Linked DNA regions of Homo sapiens. The protein of the gene in region 3 purifies or fractionates together with the protein of the main gene of each other region. This does not show direct contact. Each region holds a gene or a part of one and is shown on either strand. Other genes may lie near its edges.

What was found. Proteins that work in one complex are often made in the same cells at the same time.
Region 1: the proteins of FNBP1 (region 3) and DCTN5 fractionate together in Homo sapiens (co-fractionation; one large-scale study listed by BioGRID). This does not show direct contact.
Region 2: the proteins of FNBP1 (region 3) and EML4 fractionate together in Homo sapiens (co-fractionation; one large-scale study listed by BioGRID). This does not show direct contact.
Region 4: the proteins of FNBP1 (region 3) and MYO1E fractionate together in Homo sapiens (co-fractionation; one large-scale study listed by BioGRID). This does not show direct contact.

The regions. Positions count from the first base shown.
Region 1 is NC_000016.10:23,671,982-23,675,492, reverse strand, and holds part of DCTN5 (dynactin subunit 5), read right to left. Parts: 3' UTR 1-3,511. UniProt on the Homo sapiens protein: Part of the dynactin complex that activates the molecular motor dynein for ultra-processive transport along microtubules.
Region 2 is NC_000002.12:42,325,869-42,329,974, reverse strand, and holds part of EML4 (echinoderm microtubule-associated protein-like 4), read right to left. Parts: intron 3,931-4,106; coding exon of another isoform or gene 3,917-3,930; exon of another isoform or gene 3,833-3,916; intron 3,822-3,832; coding exon 3,723-3,821; intron 1,090-3,722; coding exon 959-1,089; intron 242-958; coding exon 1-241. UniProt on the Homo sapiens protein: Essential for the formation and stability of microtubules (MTs). Required for the organization of the mitotic spindle and for the proper attachment of kinetochores to MTs. Promotes the recruitment of NUDC to the mitotic spindle for mitotic progression.
Region 3 is NC_000009.12:129,896,227-129,900,484, forward strand, and holds part of FNBP1 (formin-binding protein 1), read right to left. Parts: coding exon 4,200-4,258; intron 3,879-4,199; coding exon of another isoform or gene 3,876-3,878; coding exon 3,739-3,875; intron 1-3,738. UniProt on the Homo sapiens protein: May act as a link between RND2 signaling and regulation of the actin cytoskeleton. Required to coordinate membrane tubulation with reorganization of the actin cytoskeleton during the late stage of clathrin-mediated endocytosis.
Region 4 is NC_000015.10:59,205,098-59,209,355, reverse strand, and holds part of MYO1E (unconventional myosin-Ie), read left to right. Parts: intron 1-507; coding exon 508-675; intron 676-767; exon of another isoform or gene 768-1,269; coding exon of another isoform or gene 1,270-2,415; exon of another isoform or gene 2,416-2,513; intron 2,514-3,870; coding exon 3,871-3,956; intron 3,957-4,258. Other genes in the region: LDHAL6B (L-lactate dehydrogenase A-like 6B), read right to left, coding at 1,270-2,415. UniProt on the Homo sapiens protein: Actin-based motor molecule with ATPase activity. Unconventional myosins serve in intracellular movements. Their highly divergent tails bind to membranous compartments, which are then moved relative to actin filaments.

The DNA.
Region 1 (3,511 bases), on a different chromosome or scaffold from region 3:
GGTCTGGCTCTGTTGCCCAGGCTAGAGTGCGGTGGCACGATTTTGGCTCACTGCAACCTCCGCCTCCTGGGCTCAAGCCATCCTCCTACCTCAGCCTCCTAAGTAGCTGGAACCAAAGGCACATGCCATCATGTCCAGCTAATTTTTGCATTTTTTGTAGACACAGGATTTCACCATGTTGCCAGGCTGGTCTTGAACTCCTGAACTCAAGCAATCTGCCCACCTCGGCCTCCCAAAGTGCTGGGATCATATGCATCCATCACTGCGCCTGGCCAACATTTTTTTTTTTAACTATCATCCTAGAGTTCAAGTAGATAAACGTTTTTATGCAACTTAACCAGAAAGACATTCAGAAATTGGTAATTATGTGTGGAGGGTTGAATTATGTCCCCACAAAAATTCATGCTGAAGCCCTAACCATCTACCTGTACCTCAAAATGTGAGTATATTTGAAGATAGGCCCTGAAGAGGTAACTAAGTTAAAATGGGATTGTTAGGATGGGCCCTAATCCAACCTGAGTGGTATCCTTATTAAAAGAGAAGATTAGGACACAGACACCCAGACAGAGGGACCATACAAGGACACAGTAAGAAGGCAGCCATCTGCAAGCCAAGCAGAGAGGCCTCAGAAGAATCTAAAGCTGTCGACACCTTGTCCTGGACTTTCAGCCTCCAGAACTGCAGGAAAATAAGTTTCTATTGTGTAAGTCACTCAGTTTGTGGTACTTTGTTATGGTATCCTTAGCAAACTAATAAAGGATGAAACCCTGAATTTTTAAAAATTTCAAAATGTGTTTACATAATCTTCTACCCCTTTTGTCCTGATTATTCAATGAGCAGACTAGAAAAGCCTAATACCTTTCTGGGGACAGCTACGTTTTAATAATCCACCTACCTTACTAAGCTGTGTGTGCTGGGAGAAAAGTGAGGGAAGTAGAGTCAGGCTGTCAGTCCACTGTTGCAAGCTGCAACTAATCCCAAAAGCTGAATGCAACAAGTCAACAGCAGTGAGAGAAGCCCCAGAGAAGGTTTGAGTCTGGTCTGTCAAAAGCAGGAGGAGAGGTCATAGTCCTTGCGATGTGCCCTTCCCCAGCTTGGAGCGTTTGGCAAATATTAGAAGTTAGGAATGCAATTAGCCTCTGTATTAGAGACAAAGAGCCTATCAGCAGCTTGATCTTAGATGGTCCCATTAGAGAATAAGCCCTTTTCAGCCAGGTTCCAGGACGTTTTCATAGTTTAGCGCTCCACGGAGGGGGTCCTTAATCTCCAACGGCCCCAACGTCTGAGTCCTGGTCATTGAGCCTGTGCCTGCTTTCAGTTCAGCATAGCTCGTGTTGAGGCTAAAACAGCTCAAGGCAGACAGTAGCAGGTTTCAGCTTAGAGTCAGGGCCAGGCAATTAGGATCTGAGAATTTGAGATTCTCAACAAGCAGCTGCTTTTCTTCAGCAGCAGTGAAGGCATGCTGCATGGCCAGACAGCTGTGGTCCAAGTGACATGCAAGGCTGCCTTTTTATCTTGTTGGTCTTAGAGTCCAATTGACCCACTCAAAAAAAATGCATATTAGACTAGACAATCATCAGCCTCTAAGGGGAGACATTTGATTTTGACAAGGGTTCATTAGCAATTTAACTGTATTTTCATTTTCCAAACAGATTGCTTCTCTTTACATGTTGTCTCCCTCTTTCCCGAGGCTCCAGTAAGCACGAATCACAGCAAAAATAATCAGTTACAGCCTGTTCTGGTTCCAATATCCGAAGAATTTAAATTCCAACCTATCCACTAGTGGCAAAAAACTAGAAAGCTGTATCCCACTAACACCTTTCATATTTTATTTTTGAGTAGCTTTATTTGATTAGGGTGATCCCTCTAGCATTTATGAAATTAACAAGCATAAAACTTTTTTTTTAAGAGATGAGTAGCTGGGACTACAGGCGCACGCCACTGCGTCCAGCTAAGGTATGTTTTTTAAGCAATGAAATCAACCAGTAAAAACAAGTTCAAATATTTTTCATTCACACACTCAAGGCCTGCTGAGCATCCACTGCATGTGTTTTACTTGTTCCATTAGAAAGGTTTATTAAAAAATGGCGGGGCACAGTGGCTCATGACTGTAATCCCAGCACTTAGGGAGGCCAAGATCGCTTGAGCCCAGGAGTTCAAGACTAGTCTGGGCAACATGGTAAAACCCTGTCTCTATTTAAAAAATAAACAAATACAAGCAAGTTTTTTTTTAAAAAATGATATATTAAAGAAAATCCTCCTAATTCTCTTATGTCTTTTCATAGCTGTTTCCATGTTCTCATATTCCCATCCTTGTCAACATGGAATTTTTGTTGTTGTTGTTGTGGTTTTTTTTTTTTTTTTTGAGACGGAGTCTCGCTCTGTCGCCCAGGCTGGAGTGCAGTGGCACAATTACAGCTCACTGCAAGCTCCGCCCCCTGGGTTCGCGCCATTCTCCTGCCTCAGCCTCCCAAGTAGCTGGGAATACAGGCACCCGCCACCATGCCTGGCTAATTTTTTTGTATTTTTAGTAGAGATGGGGTTTCACTGTGTTAGCCAGGATGGTCTTGATCTCCTGACCTCGTGATCTGCCCACCTCGGCCTCCCGAAGTGATGGGATTACAGGCTTGAGCCACTGCGCCTGGCCAAACATGGAATTTGTTTTATACAGTTGCAATTATGGTCCATTAATACAATCTATTTGTATGTTATCAGTAACAGTAATACTAACAGTGAACCCTTATTAAGCATTTACTATGTGCCAGGCACAAGGCTAAGAGTTTTACAGAGATGATCTCATTTACCTTGGGTTACTTACCCAACCAAGGTTTATAGCCAGCAGGTGGCAAAGCTTGAATTCCAACCCAACTCTGCTGACTCCCAACTACACCCACCTGCACACTTGCCTCTTGGGCCTTGTTTGTCTGGCAAGTCCTAAATCCCAGACTCATTTGTTCACTTGCTTGCTTCCTCCCTCCCTCCCTACCAAAACACAGTATGATCTGTCGGTTAAACTCAATAGACTAAAAACTCCGGGTTCAAATGCTAGCTCCTCCATCACTAGCTGTATGACCTTGGGAAAGTACTTAATCTCTCTGTGCCTCAATTTCCATGTTTATAAAATGGGATAAAGTGCCCATTATAGTGCCCATTTCCTAGGATTCTATCCAGGAGATGATGTGCCTATTTCCTAAGGTTCTTATAATGAGATTCTGCAAGGACAGCACTCCAAATAGTACAGGCACATGGTTTTGACAGTTGTTTCTGTTATTATTGAAATAAAAAGAACCTATACCTGTTCCCAGGAAGCTCAGAGTCTCTCACAGGCCTTTTCAGTTCCTGGGGCTCTCATATTTCCTCATTCTCCCAGACTCCTCTGACCCTACTCTTCCTCAGGTTCTTACTGCTCCTGTGGGAAATCAGAAAGAGCAGCCAGCAGACAACACCAACTGAGATGAATGCAGCTGAAATGGCACAGGTCAGTATGGCCAAGAAACACCATGGGCTAATG
Region 2 (4,106 bases), on a different chromosome or scaffold from region 3:
GCTGAGAAGGAGGCGGTGTGGGAGTATTAGATTGGATGACACTTTCAGTGGAAGAGACGGGGGCTTTGGTTAGAGTAGTATCCGCTACAGTCTCATTCTGAGGCAAAGATAACTTTTCCACAAGTTTCCACTGAATGATGCTCATGTCTTTTCCACCAGTTGATATCAGGTGACTGTCATTGTGAGTAAAACTGACATTGGTGACATGGCTGCTGTGGGCACTGTACTTGTGACTGGGAGCCTATATGAAATAAATCAGACAGACAGGAAAATTAAACTCATTCTTGACATGCCTGTTTCAGAAATGGAGGTGATACGTAAGGGGGGTAAACTCAGCTTGTGAAATGGGCAATCCAATTTAAAGCCAGAAGTCATCAAATCTCAGGAGTAAGGCTAGCCGTTATTTCCTTTTATTATCACTTTACATAGGAAAAACGAAACAGAAGAATTGGACATCTCTGTATTTTCACACTATATGTTTAAAAAAATAGCTAAAAGTCTGTCTCTTCTAGATGTTGGTCGTATACTTGCCAGAGCTTAGTAATTATTCTTCTGAAATGGTTAGGGGAACATTTACTATGTTGGTAGGATTACAGGACATTCGGGAAACAGTTCCATTAGTTTTATAACGTTGAATATGTATCCAACAAATAAAATATTTTAAAATATTTAGGAGAGATTTTAAATTGCCAACAAATCAAAATAAAAAGCAACCGGACAATAAAGAAACAGGAATAACATCATCGGTCGTCATTTCTACAGCTCACTTCTCCTTAGCCTTAGGAAGGGGGAGAAGACAAGCACTGCCTGGATGGATGCTCACCGATGGCCCTTATCTCCCTCTGTGCACTGGAGTATCATGGAGAGGAATCAGTAACCTATATTTTCTTGCTATGGATGCAAAATCATCCCTGGACAGAAGGCCTTATAACATTAGTTTCTATTAAAGTGAGTTTACCTTTGCTTTGGAGCAGGGATACTGAAACAGATGGACTTTACAAAAGTCATCGGCAACAGCTATCACCTTTCTATTGTGGGATCGCACCAGTGCATTGATATCTGTCCCATCAGATCCTTCTGGCCAGACACCTTTGATATGGAAACACAGGGATGCAGAAAAATTAGCTGAAGAAATATAACTGTGATGCTATATATGTTTATTTTATTTTAGAATCTGTTTAGCTTTTATCTATGTTCAAACTCTTAGCTGTTAACATTTCCTTTACAAATTTCTCAGTGGCTCACACTGTTCTTCATTCAAATCAAGTCCTGTCCAAAATCTAACTAATAAAAAACCAAAATAGCCCCAAAATGGAAAACTTAAAGACTCAATGGTACTCAATGGTAACCAGCAGGTGGTGCTAATAATTTATTTTACTTTCAGCTTGACTTACACCTCAGCAATAAGCTCTTCCTTTTTAAAGTTTCTGGATGGAGGGAATCAGTTACTTGTATAGACAAGGTTCAAAAACAAAGCCATAACACCAAGTCTTCGAAGTGGAGTCTAGGTTTTCTTTCAGGCAAGCACCTCCAAGAAAACCTCAGAGAGATTATTTCTTTTAGAAAGCATAGGCCATCCACTAGTTTAGCATGCTATCCCATGTAATTTTCCTGGAAAGATTATGTCCCAAGATAAGACACGTCAAATTTAATTATTCTGAATCATTATGCAGCACTAATGATCATGTCGAACATAATTTTCACAAACCTCTATTAGGCTAGATTGAAACTATGGAAGATTTAAGGGTTGAGATGTTGGCCACTTGTGGTTGAATGCTACTCTAGAGAACAAATATGTTTTTGGTAAATTTGCTAAAAACAAGTCAAAATACTTTAAAATTGGTCTCTCTTAATAATTTAAATAAATAATGTCTTCATTAAAATAACCACAGAAGCTACCAGCTATGGGTCACTGCTTCATTTTCACGTAGAATAATGAAATTGTTTATGGACAGAATTATTTTGTTTTTAATTCCTTCCTGGCCTATTAGGCTTCTCTGTCTTGATAGCACTTGTGTTTAGAACAACCACCTATAATGGATTATTTTCCTAATGCACATAGCATAAAGAAATGTTCAGATCTATGATCAGGCTGGAGAACCCAATTTTCAGAAGGCAGAGATAAATTGTTAAAGAGAAAATATTAATTTTTGTGTATTGCTTTAGGTATTGGTGCCACATCCATATCCAGTATTTTAATTACCTGAGCATAACACTTCTTTTTAATTCTTTGCAAATAACGCTTTATTATTTTAACTTTTCCATCTATCTTCTAACCCTTTCAGAAGGATACCTAAATACTGAGGAAGGCTTAGAAAACAGTCATAGAGGTCGGATTTCCAGAAAGTTACAAAACGTCAGATTAGGAAGAAGCCCCACATAGTTATCTTTATATAATTCTCCTAAAAATGCCTTTGTATTTCAACAAGTGGTGTAAGGCAACTAGACATCCACACGCAAAATAATAATAAAATACACTGACAAGGACATGGAGGAACCAGAACCCTCGTACACTGCTGGTGGAAATGTAAATGTAGTCACTGTGGAAAACAGTCTGGCAGTTGCTCAAAAGAGTAAACATACAGTTACCATTTGACTCAGCAATTCTACTCCTAGGTAAATACCCAAGAGAAATGAAAACATGTCTACACAAAAACCTGCACATGACTGTTCACAGCAGTGGTATTCATAATAGCTGAAAAGTAGAAACAGCCCAAGTGTCCATCAGCTGATGAATGAATTAACAAAATGTCATCTATCCATACAATGGGATATTACTCAGCCATAAAAAGAGTAAAGTACTGATGTATGCTACAACGTGGATAAACCTTGAAAACGTTATGCTAAATCACAGAAGCTAGTCTCAGTGGATCAAATATTGTATGATTCCCCTTATATAAACTATACAGAAAAGGCAAATCAATAACAGATTAGTGGTTGCTGGGGGGTGGGGTAGAGGATAAGAGAGATGGGGTAACTGTTAATGGGTACAGAGTTTCTTTGTGGGGTAATGAAAATGTTCTAAAATTAGACCTTGATGGTCACACAACTAAGTATACAAAAACCACTGAATTTTACACTTTATTTATTTATGAGCTGGAGTCTCACTCTGTCACCCAGGCTGGAGTGCAGTGGCACAATCTCAGCTCACTGCAGCCTCTGCCTCCCAGGTTCAAGCAGTTCTCCTGCCTCAGCCTCCCACGTAACTGGGATTACAGGTGCACGTCACCACGCCCAGCTAATTTTTGTATTTTTAGCAGAGACAGGGTTTCACCATGTTGGCCAGGCTGGTCTCGAACTCCTGAACTCAGGTGATTTGCCCACCTCGGCCTCCCAAAGTGCTAGAATTACAGGTGTGAGCCACTGCGCCCAGCCTGAATTTTACACTTTAGGTGAATTGTATGGCATGTATCTCAAGCTATTTAAAAATGCCTTTCCAAATTTAATAACTTCAATTTTCACTTAAAGAAAAACGGGAAGGTAATCTGTACTACTATGTAAATTCCTTGTCTTTCATATTAAGGACCAAAAGTGCTTGATTCTGCAAAATACAAATCCCATGTTGGTTCAATCCTAATACATTTAATTTCTCTGAGGCTGACATTAATAGTGATAAAGCTAAAGAATACACAGACTATTTTTCATTTATAAATTTAAGCAAGTAAATATTATATATAAAAAACCCACAAACCACTTCTTTACATCAGGTGTCATTTCCTTACCAAATACTTGAAATCCTAGCACACAGGTATATGTCGTCCAATCAATGTCCTTACAATCCGATCGATTCCTGATTAGTTTGCAGCCATTTGGAATGTCCCCTTTAAATTTAGAAACAGGAAGTATAATCATAGTGCTTGTGTACAAATGTATTTGAAAGTGCATCTTGATTCAAACTAGCCACGTTTACTTGTATTTATAATCCATACACTGAAAAACATTAAGACACATTTAAAAAGGAAAAGAAAGTGTTCACTTTAACAGGGTTTATAAAACTACAAACTGTTTCCCATGGAAGTTTTTTTTTTCCTCTAAAAAGCATAAATGCCCATCTATCATATTCCTCCCTGCCTCCAGGAGAAGTAATTAAATGAAAAACCATTCAG
Region 3 (4,258 bases):
CCTCCAGGGCCCTCTTTCTCCTCCCTCCCAGAATGGTAAGTATTTCTCACTGGATAAATCTTTGGTTCTCTTCTCTAGTCTTCTTCTGTCTCACTTGGATCTCTCTCAGGAGAAAGGTACCCTCGTGGCTCCAACTGCTTCTCTTTTGTCTGTTATTTTTTGGGGGGGTTGTGGGGGATGGAGTCTTGCTCTTGTTGCCCAGGCCAGAGTGCTGTGGTGCAATCTCAACTCACTGCAACCTCCACCTCCCCGGTTCAAGCGATTCTCCTGTCTCAGCCTCCCGAGCAGCTGAGACTATAGGTGTGCACCACCACACCCGGCTAACCTTTCTATTTTTAGTAGAGATGGGGTTTCACCATGTTGGTCAGGCTGGTCTGACTCCTGACCTTAGGTGATCCACCAGCCTCAGCCTCCCAATTTTTTTGTTGTTGTTGTTTGTTTGTTTTGAGACAGAGTCTTGCTCTGTTGCCCAGGCTGGAGTGTGATGCCACTTGTCCCGGGTTCAAGTGATTCTCCTGCCTCGGCCTCCCGAGTAGCTGAGATTACAGGCATGTGCCACCACGCCCGGCTAATTTTGTATTTTTAGTAGAGACGAGGTTTCACCATGTTGGTCAGGCTGGTCTTGAACTCCTGACCTCAGGTGATCCACCCGCCTCGGCCTCCCAAAGCGCTGGGATTACAGGCGTGAGCCACCACGCCCGGCCCAACTGCTCCTCTTTAAACACTGTCCTCACATATTGCTTCCATTCTGGTACTTTCTGCAGCCAAGATTCCACTTTTCCCACTGTCTGCAGCACACTGCCACCTAGACATGGCCCCAACACCTGAAACAACATAGATGAACCTGGATTCACTGTTCTTCCTCCTAACTATATCCTCCTGCTTTTCCACTTCCCTAGACCTCTCTGTCCTCCCAGGAATGCAACTCTGGGAGCCGTCTTGGATTTCCTCTCCTTTTTGTTCCTGGCTTTTGATCAGCCCCGAATATATGCAGTTTGTCAATGGCGGCATCTCTGTATCCATTCCTTGAACAAGGCCCCCAAGACCTTCTGCTAGGATCATTTCAAAGGCTGCCCACCACCCCCCAGTTTTCTGCAAGGCAAAGAGTTTAGGGAGCTGTTAACAGGGCAACAGGGTACGGTGGGGGATGGTTGGAATATGAAGTAAAACTGGGAACGTTTAAACTGGTACGTCTTTCTTATTTTGTCACAATGAACATTTAGTCTATTAAAGGCTCTGAAAAGTCCTGTAGTAAAGAAATCTGTAAAATTTATTTATCCCAGGGCTTCCCAAACTTACTTGAGCTCTGATTGCTAGTTTTAAAAATTTATTCATTATATTAAAATGCAACTTTTTCGTAATTTTATTTATTTATTTATTTATTTTTTAGAGAGGGTTTCACACTATCGCCTAGGCTGGAGTGCAGTGGTACGATCATAGCTCACTGTAGCCCTGAACTCTTGGCCTCAGCCTCCCAAAGTGCTGGGATTACAGGTGTGAGCCACTGAGCCTGGCCTGAGAGCTTCTTTCATGGCCTCCTTATTAACGCTCTGCAGGACATCGTTTCAAGGTTCATTGGTTTAGAAACACTAAGCTAGTTTATCTTTTCTTTCTTTTTTTTGAGACAGAGTTGCCCTCTGTTGCCCATACTGGAGTACAATGGCACGATCTTGGCTCACTGCAACCTCTGCCTCCTGGGTTCAAGCAATTCTCATGCTTCAGCCTCCCGAGTAGCTGGGATTACAGGCGCCCGCCACCACGCCTCACTGATTTTTGTATTTTTAGTAGAGACGGGGTTTCATCATGTTGGGCAGGCTGGTCTAGAACTCCTGACCTCAGGTGATCTGCCTGCCTCAGCCTCCCAAAGTTCTAGGATTACAGGCGTGAGCCACCATGCCCGGCCTGGGCTAGTCTTTCTAACCATCCTCCATGTCTTCCAGTGGATCCTACACATCTGACGATGACTTTCCTAAGGTACAGCTCTGACTGCATCGACACCCTGCTAGGGGACCTCCCATAGCTCCTCAATGTTTGCCACATAAAACCCAGATGTTTCCCTACCTCGCCCCCATTGGCACTTCCCACTCTTTAGTGCCACATTTCACTATTAGGACTTAAGACATCTAAGCTCCAGCCACACCACACCCATTTCTGGCCACACCCCCCATGCCATGGCAAGTTCTCCAAACTTCCTTAAGGAAGCGACCTCATTCTCCCCTGTCCTCCCCGTTCCTCTGTATCCCTCTTCTGGCAAACACTGCAAACTGCCTGCTTTTTTTTTTTGAGAGGGAGTCTTGCTCTGTTGCCAGGCTGGAGTAAAGTGGCACGACCTCGGCTCACTGCCACCTCCGACTCCTGGTTTAAGTGAGTCTCCTGCTTCAGCCTCCCAAGTAGCTGGAATTACAGGCATGCGCTACCACGCTTAGCTGATTTTTGTATTTTTAGTAGAGATGGGGTTTCACCATGTTGGCCAGGATGGTCTCGATCTCCTGACCTCACGATCCGCCTGCCTCGGCCTCCCAAAGTGCTGGGATTACAGGCGTGAGCCACTGCACCCAGCCGCTGCTTGCTCCTTAAGTGTGTCTGCCTGATTTCCCTCTGGGCAGGTGCCATATCATACGACCTGCATCCCCCCACTTCATGGGCCTTTACAAGACAGGAGCGCTATAGATACTAGATATTAAATGAATGGATGAAATGATCATCCTCCCTATCGTCTGCTGCAGTGAAGCAAGCTCTCTGGAAGCTGTTAAGTTATACGAACCAAAAGTCAAAATATACAACCAAATAATAATCATACCATGAGTAGGATAAAAGCATAGTAGAGAAGGATCTGGAAGGCTGCTGCTGCAGCTTTTTTTTTTTTTTTGAGACAGAGTCTCGTTCTGTCACCCAGGCTGGAGTACAGTGGCGCTATCTCAGCTCACTGCAACCTCCGCCTCCCGGGTTCAAGTGATTCTCGTGCCTCAGCCTCCCGAGCAGCTGGGATTACAGGCGCCTGCCAGCATGCCCAGCCAGTTTTTGTATTTTTAGTAGAGATGGGATTTCACCATGTTGGCGAGGCTGGTCTTGAACTCCTGGCCTCAAGTGACCTGCCCGCCTCAGCCTCCCAAAGTTCTAGGATTACAGGTGTGAGCCACCATGCCCGGCCAGATCTGGAAGGCTTCTAAAGAAAGTTCTGGTCACAGAAAGAGAAGAGTGTGGCTAGGCACAGTGGCTCACACCTGTGATCACAGCACTTTGGGAGGCTGAGGCAGGAGTACTGCTTGAATCCAGGAGTTCAACACCAGCCTGGGCAACATAGTGAGACCCTGTCTCTACTGAAAAGTACAAAAAGTACAAAAGTACAAAAATGAGCCGGACATGGTGGTGCTTGCCTGTAGTCCCAGCTACTCAGGAGGCTGAGGTTGGAGGATCACTTGAGCCCAGGAGGTCAAGGCTGCAGTGAGCCATGATTGCACCACTGCACTCTAACTTGGGCAAGAGAGCGAGACCCTGTATGAAAAAAAGGAAGGAAGGAAGGAAGGGAAGGAAGGGAAGGAAGGGAAGGGAGGGAAGGGAAGGGAAGGAAGGAAGGGGAAGGGGAAGGGGAAGGGGAAGGGAAGGTAGGAAGGAAGGAAGGAAGGACAAAGGAATAAAAATGATCAGAAGGAAGGAAGGAAGGAAAAGTGAAAGAAGAGTAACTCAGATATTATGGTTTATAAAAGGCAGGGGAATCCAGCAGACATGAAATGTCACCTTCAAATGTGTAGAGAGCTTTGCACGTCCCTATGGCAGGGAGGGGCTCCTCATCATCAAACTCGTCGTCAAAATCCGTGGCCAGCACCTTCATCTCACTCTCCTGACTCTGCTCCTCTGTGTAACTGCCATCTGGGCTGCTCAAGAAAGGAAAACACAAAGCAACTAAAGCGACTGACCCCAGGGAGGACTCAGATTGAGTCCCTGCGACTGGAGAGCACTTGCAACCCCGCCCCTCAGCGAGTGCTGTAACTGAGGCCATGGTAAATCATCGCACGCTCAGATCACCCATCCCATGTGGAATTATAAATCTGCATCATGGAAAAAGTGACAGGTCAATCGCAACAGACATTTTGGCATTGAACAAGTGCCTTATGGTCATTCCAGATTCCAAAATTTAGAAATAAATACAAAGCCAACAGGCTCCCTTGCCAGAGGCAGGCGCTGTGCAGATACTGTACCTCTCACGGTCCTGGGCGCAGTTGTTGACTGTGGGTGGGTTCTGGCTGTCGTACAGTCC
Region 4 (4,258 bases), on a different chromosome or scaffold from region 3:
AGAGAAGTATAGCCATTAAAATAGTAAGTGTGAAGAATGTGTAAAACATGAGGAATGCTTATAAAATAGTGCTATGTGAAAAAGGAAATGCATTATAGAATGTGTACACTAAATAACTACCGAAATGATGCCTATATGGGTAACACGCTGAAAGAGAACATTAAGAAATAGATTAGGTCAAAGGAAAATGTTTTTACTTTTGGATTCTTAAGCAAGTCAATTTGGCATGACTATGAGTGAGCAGATAATGATCTGTGCATGACTCTTGGATAAAACTTCAGGGAGTTAAACAGCTTTTTGGAAAGTGGAGTTTCCTCCCTCTTTAGATCTAAGTGGTGACTCCCTATTTGGGACTATTAATTGCATTCTTGCCTGAAGGGGAATACTGACTTTCAAGATGGTATCTTAAGTCTGGGGAGCTGTTTCCTTGCCTAAGAAAGGACCTGATAAGCATTGTCTGTTTTGGAGAGGTCAGTGACTAGGGCCTTGCCTTCTTGCTCCCATCAGAACCCTCCTGGCATCATGAGCATCCTGGATGACGTGTGCGCCACGATGCATGCGGTGGGTGAGGGGGCAGATCAGACGCTGCTCCAGAAACTTCAGATGCAGATTGGGAGTCATGAGCACTTCAACAGTTGGAACCAAGGCTTCATCATTCATCATTATGCTGGGAAGGTATGGCCAATATCCATTTTAATGTCTATCTGTTTTAAGCCTTTGGGTTTGTGATCTGGTTTCTCATGAAGCAAATCATATGGCTCGCCGTATTTTATTGATTCAACAAACGGAATTTATTAACTATCAAAGGAAGCAAAACAAAAGATTGTATATACTACTGCATTTTTTTGTATGTACATTTATTTTTACATTGTAGAAGAAGCTACTACTTTTTTACAGCATATAAATGAACATAGGTATAAACCAGCAAGAATGAAAGAAATAGCATATATCTAATGAAAAGAGTCGGAATTTCTAGAACACAATAAATACCTACATCCTACTTTTTGGGAACCAAATGCCAACTACATATATATAACATGGCAAGTGCTGCTACATCAGAGGTACCAAAAATACTTAGGAATTGTAAATAAGTATCGTCCAGCACGTGGATGCTCAATAAAAGAGCTGGAGGACTAAATAAATAGGAAAATCACTCTACCTACTTTCCTGTTTCCATCTTTTAGGAATTCAAGTTTATTCAAAATTTCGTTATATAATCCTGTATCTATGATCTCTTCAATAATTTCGGAATGGTAGTTTTAGGCAACTTTAAAGCTTAAGCTTATTCTGAATTTCCCAGAGTGTTTTTGCACTTTTTTTCAGATGGGCCTCTTCTTCAGGGGTCAGCTTTATCTTTATAAGGTTGGTAATACCGTTCTCTCCCAGGATACAAGGAATACTGAGGAATACTTCTTCATCTATTCCATAGAGGCCCTTAATTATGGTGGAAACTGGATGTATTCTCCTAAGATTCTTCAAAATACTTTCTGTTAAATCGGCCACAGATAGGCCAATGGCCCAAGAAGTATAACCTTTCATTTTAATAATCTCATAGGCAGTTGCAGTCACTTCTTTGTGGACATTTTTCCATTGCTCAGGATCTTTATCAGTTCCTATATCAGAGTTCAGATCCTTCAAAGGGACACCAGCTATGTTCACTCCACTCCACACAGGAACACTTGAGTCTCCATGCTCTCCGAGGATCCATCCATGGCAGCTTTCAGAATGGATACCAAGCTTTTGTCCAATCAAGAAACGAAAACGAGCAGTATCCAGATTACAGCCGCTTCCAATAATACGGTTTTTGGGAAATGCACTCAACTTCCAAGCTACATAAGTTAAGATATCCACTGGATTGGAAACAATAATCAGTTTGCAGTGGGGGCTGTACTGGACAATACTGGAAATCATTAACTTGAAGATGGCCACATTTCGCTGGACTAAATTAAGGCGCGTTTCTCCCTTTTCTTGGCGTGCACCTGCTGTGATAATCACTAGGTTGGAGTTTGCTGTGACAAAGTAATCTTTGCTACAAACAATATTTGGCATTTTCGTGAAAGGGCTGCCATGTTGAAGATCCATCGTCTCACCCTTCAGTTTGTCTTCATCAAGATCCACAAGGGCAAGTTCATCACTCAAGCCTTTTAATAAGATGCTGATAGCGCAGGCCATGCCCACCGATCCAGTTCCTATGATGGAGACCTTACTGTGATGAACGGGCTTCTCGGAAGTGAAACGCTCAATAAGCTCACTCTTCACAGTCGCCATCTTGCTCACGGGGGTGAAGAGCCAGGTGCCGTTGAGCGGGATGCGCGTTGCTTGACGCGGACACAGGGCCATCCCCAGGCATAGGAAATTCGCTCCCACCGAGCTCACTCTCTGGCTGGCCCGCACAACAGGCACAGTCCAACTCATGGCTGCTCACTGAAGAAGTGGAGAGAGAGAATGGAAAAAAGCTGCTGATCCGAACGTTGAGACGCCAAGAGAGCCGTTGGCAGGACCTTCAGCACTCTACGGCAGGTGCGCGTGCCCCGCCCCCTGGCCCTCTACTGCGGCTGCGCGGGCCTTGCCAGAGTCTCCGACACGTGCTTTCCGTGGGTGCTCAGACTAAGGCAGTGAAGGGCTGCTTCTCTAGCAAGTGATTTCTGGAGTTAGTTTTGCTAAGAGTATTATCAATAGTTGACATGCTTAAGAGGCTAACCGAGATCCCTGGAATTACTAGTTTTTTATTTTTAATATGAATGCTGAGGAAACATGCTTCTGTTAACTACAGATGAAAATAAGGTTACGTTTTCTGAACCGTGACCCTGCCAGGAAGGATAGGGCTCTATGCTTTGCGTACTGGTGGCTGCCTGCACCATCTCCCAGTGTCCCAGAATTGGGCGCCTGCTTTCTGGTCTATGGCGCTGGAGGCCTATTTTGAAAGGATTCCACTGCCTTGGTGCCAGTCCTGGCCAGGACCCACCCTGGGACAGTCGGCTGGGGCTTCAGCAGGGTAGGGGCCGGCTGGGAGTCACTCCAGCACTAAATCTCAGCATACTACTGCATATTTTTGGAAAATGAATCACCCTGCTACATGTATTAGCTGCTGAATAAATGGATTTTCGTCTTGCCTCTTGCTGGAATCACAGACTGGCATTCCTTGTCTCCCCATGCCTACTGGTAGTATAAATCAAGGCCCAGAGTGCACTTTTGGTGTTCTTATAAAGCCCATCAGTATTGGGTGCCTACTGGATGCCAGGCTGTGTGGGGCTGCTGATGATAAAAAAGTTAAGTTGAGGTCGTGGTCTTGGGGACTTCCTAGTGCTATGGAAATCCCCTGGTCTCATCCATCATCCCAGCTGATCTCTTGTTAAACAGAGTATCTGAGCATGAGTTTCTGGCCAGATTGGTGCAACTTTGATACCACTTCTGGGAGAAACTGCAAAGCCTCAGATGACATGGCTCATTGCAGTGAATTACTGAGCATGAGGGGCTTCACTTTTGCTCTGGCTTAGCTAAAATTTAGGAAAAGTATTGAGTATGTCACTTAGACACCCCTATGGATCCACTGAAGAAGGGGTATGGGGACTTGAGAGCTGGAGTTCTGATTACGGATCAGCTGGGCCATCCAGGCAGCCAGATACTCATCAGCATCTGCAGGCCTTCCCCACTAAGTCAGCTAACAAGTAAGACGTGCACAGCCTTCCTGTGACAGTGCACAATGAAATCCCAAATGCAACATCTGGAAATCCACATGTTGTGGTGAGGGTAGCCATGACAGCTTTGGTTTTTTGTTTGGTGAAATTAGATTTTTTGTTCAATAAATGATTTTGTTCAATTAATTACATTTTGTTCAATGAAATTCGATTTCTTTCCATTCTTGGCCAGGTATCCTATGACATGGATGGCTTTTGTGAAAGGAACCGGGATGTGCTTTTTATGGATCTCATCGAGCTTATGCAGAGCAGCGAGCTGTAAGTATGTTTTGCCATAGCTGACAGGGGATATAGGTTTGATGAAATTTTCAATATGAAAACAAACTTATGAGCTGGGTGTGGTGGTGTGTTCCTATAGTCCCAGCTACTCAGGAGGCTAAGGCAGGAGGATCACTTGATCCTAGGAGTTTGAGGCTGCACTGAGCTGTGATCACTCCTGTCAATAGCCACTGCCCTCCAGCCAGGCAACATAGGAACACTGTGTCTCTAATAAAGAAAAAAACAAAAACAAAACAAAACACCTGTGATGTTTAGTGGTTAGCATTTTGTTCCTTCATGCT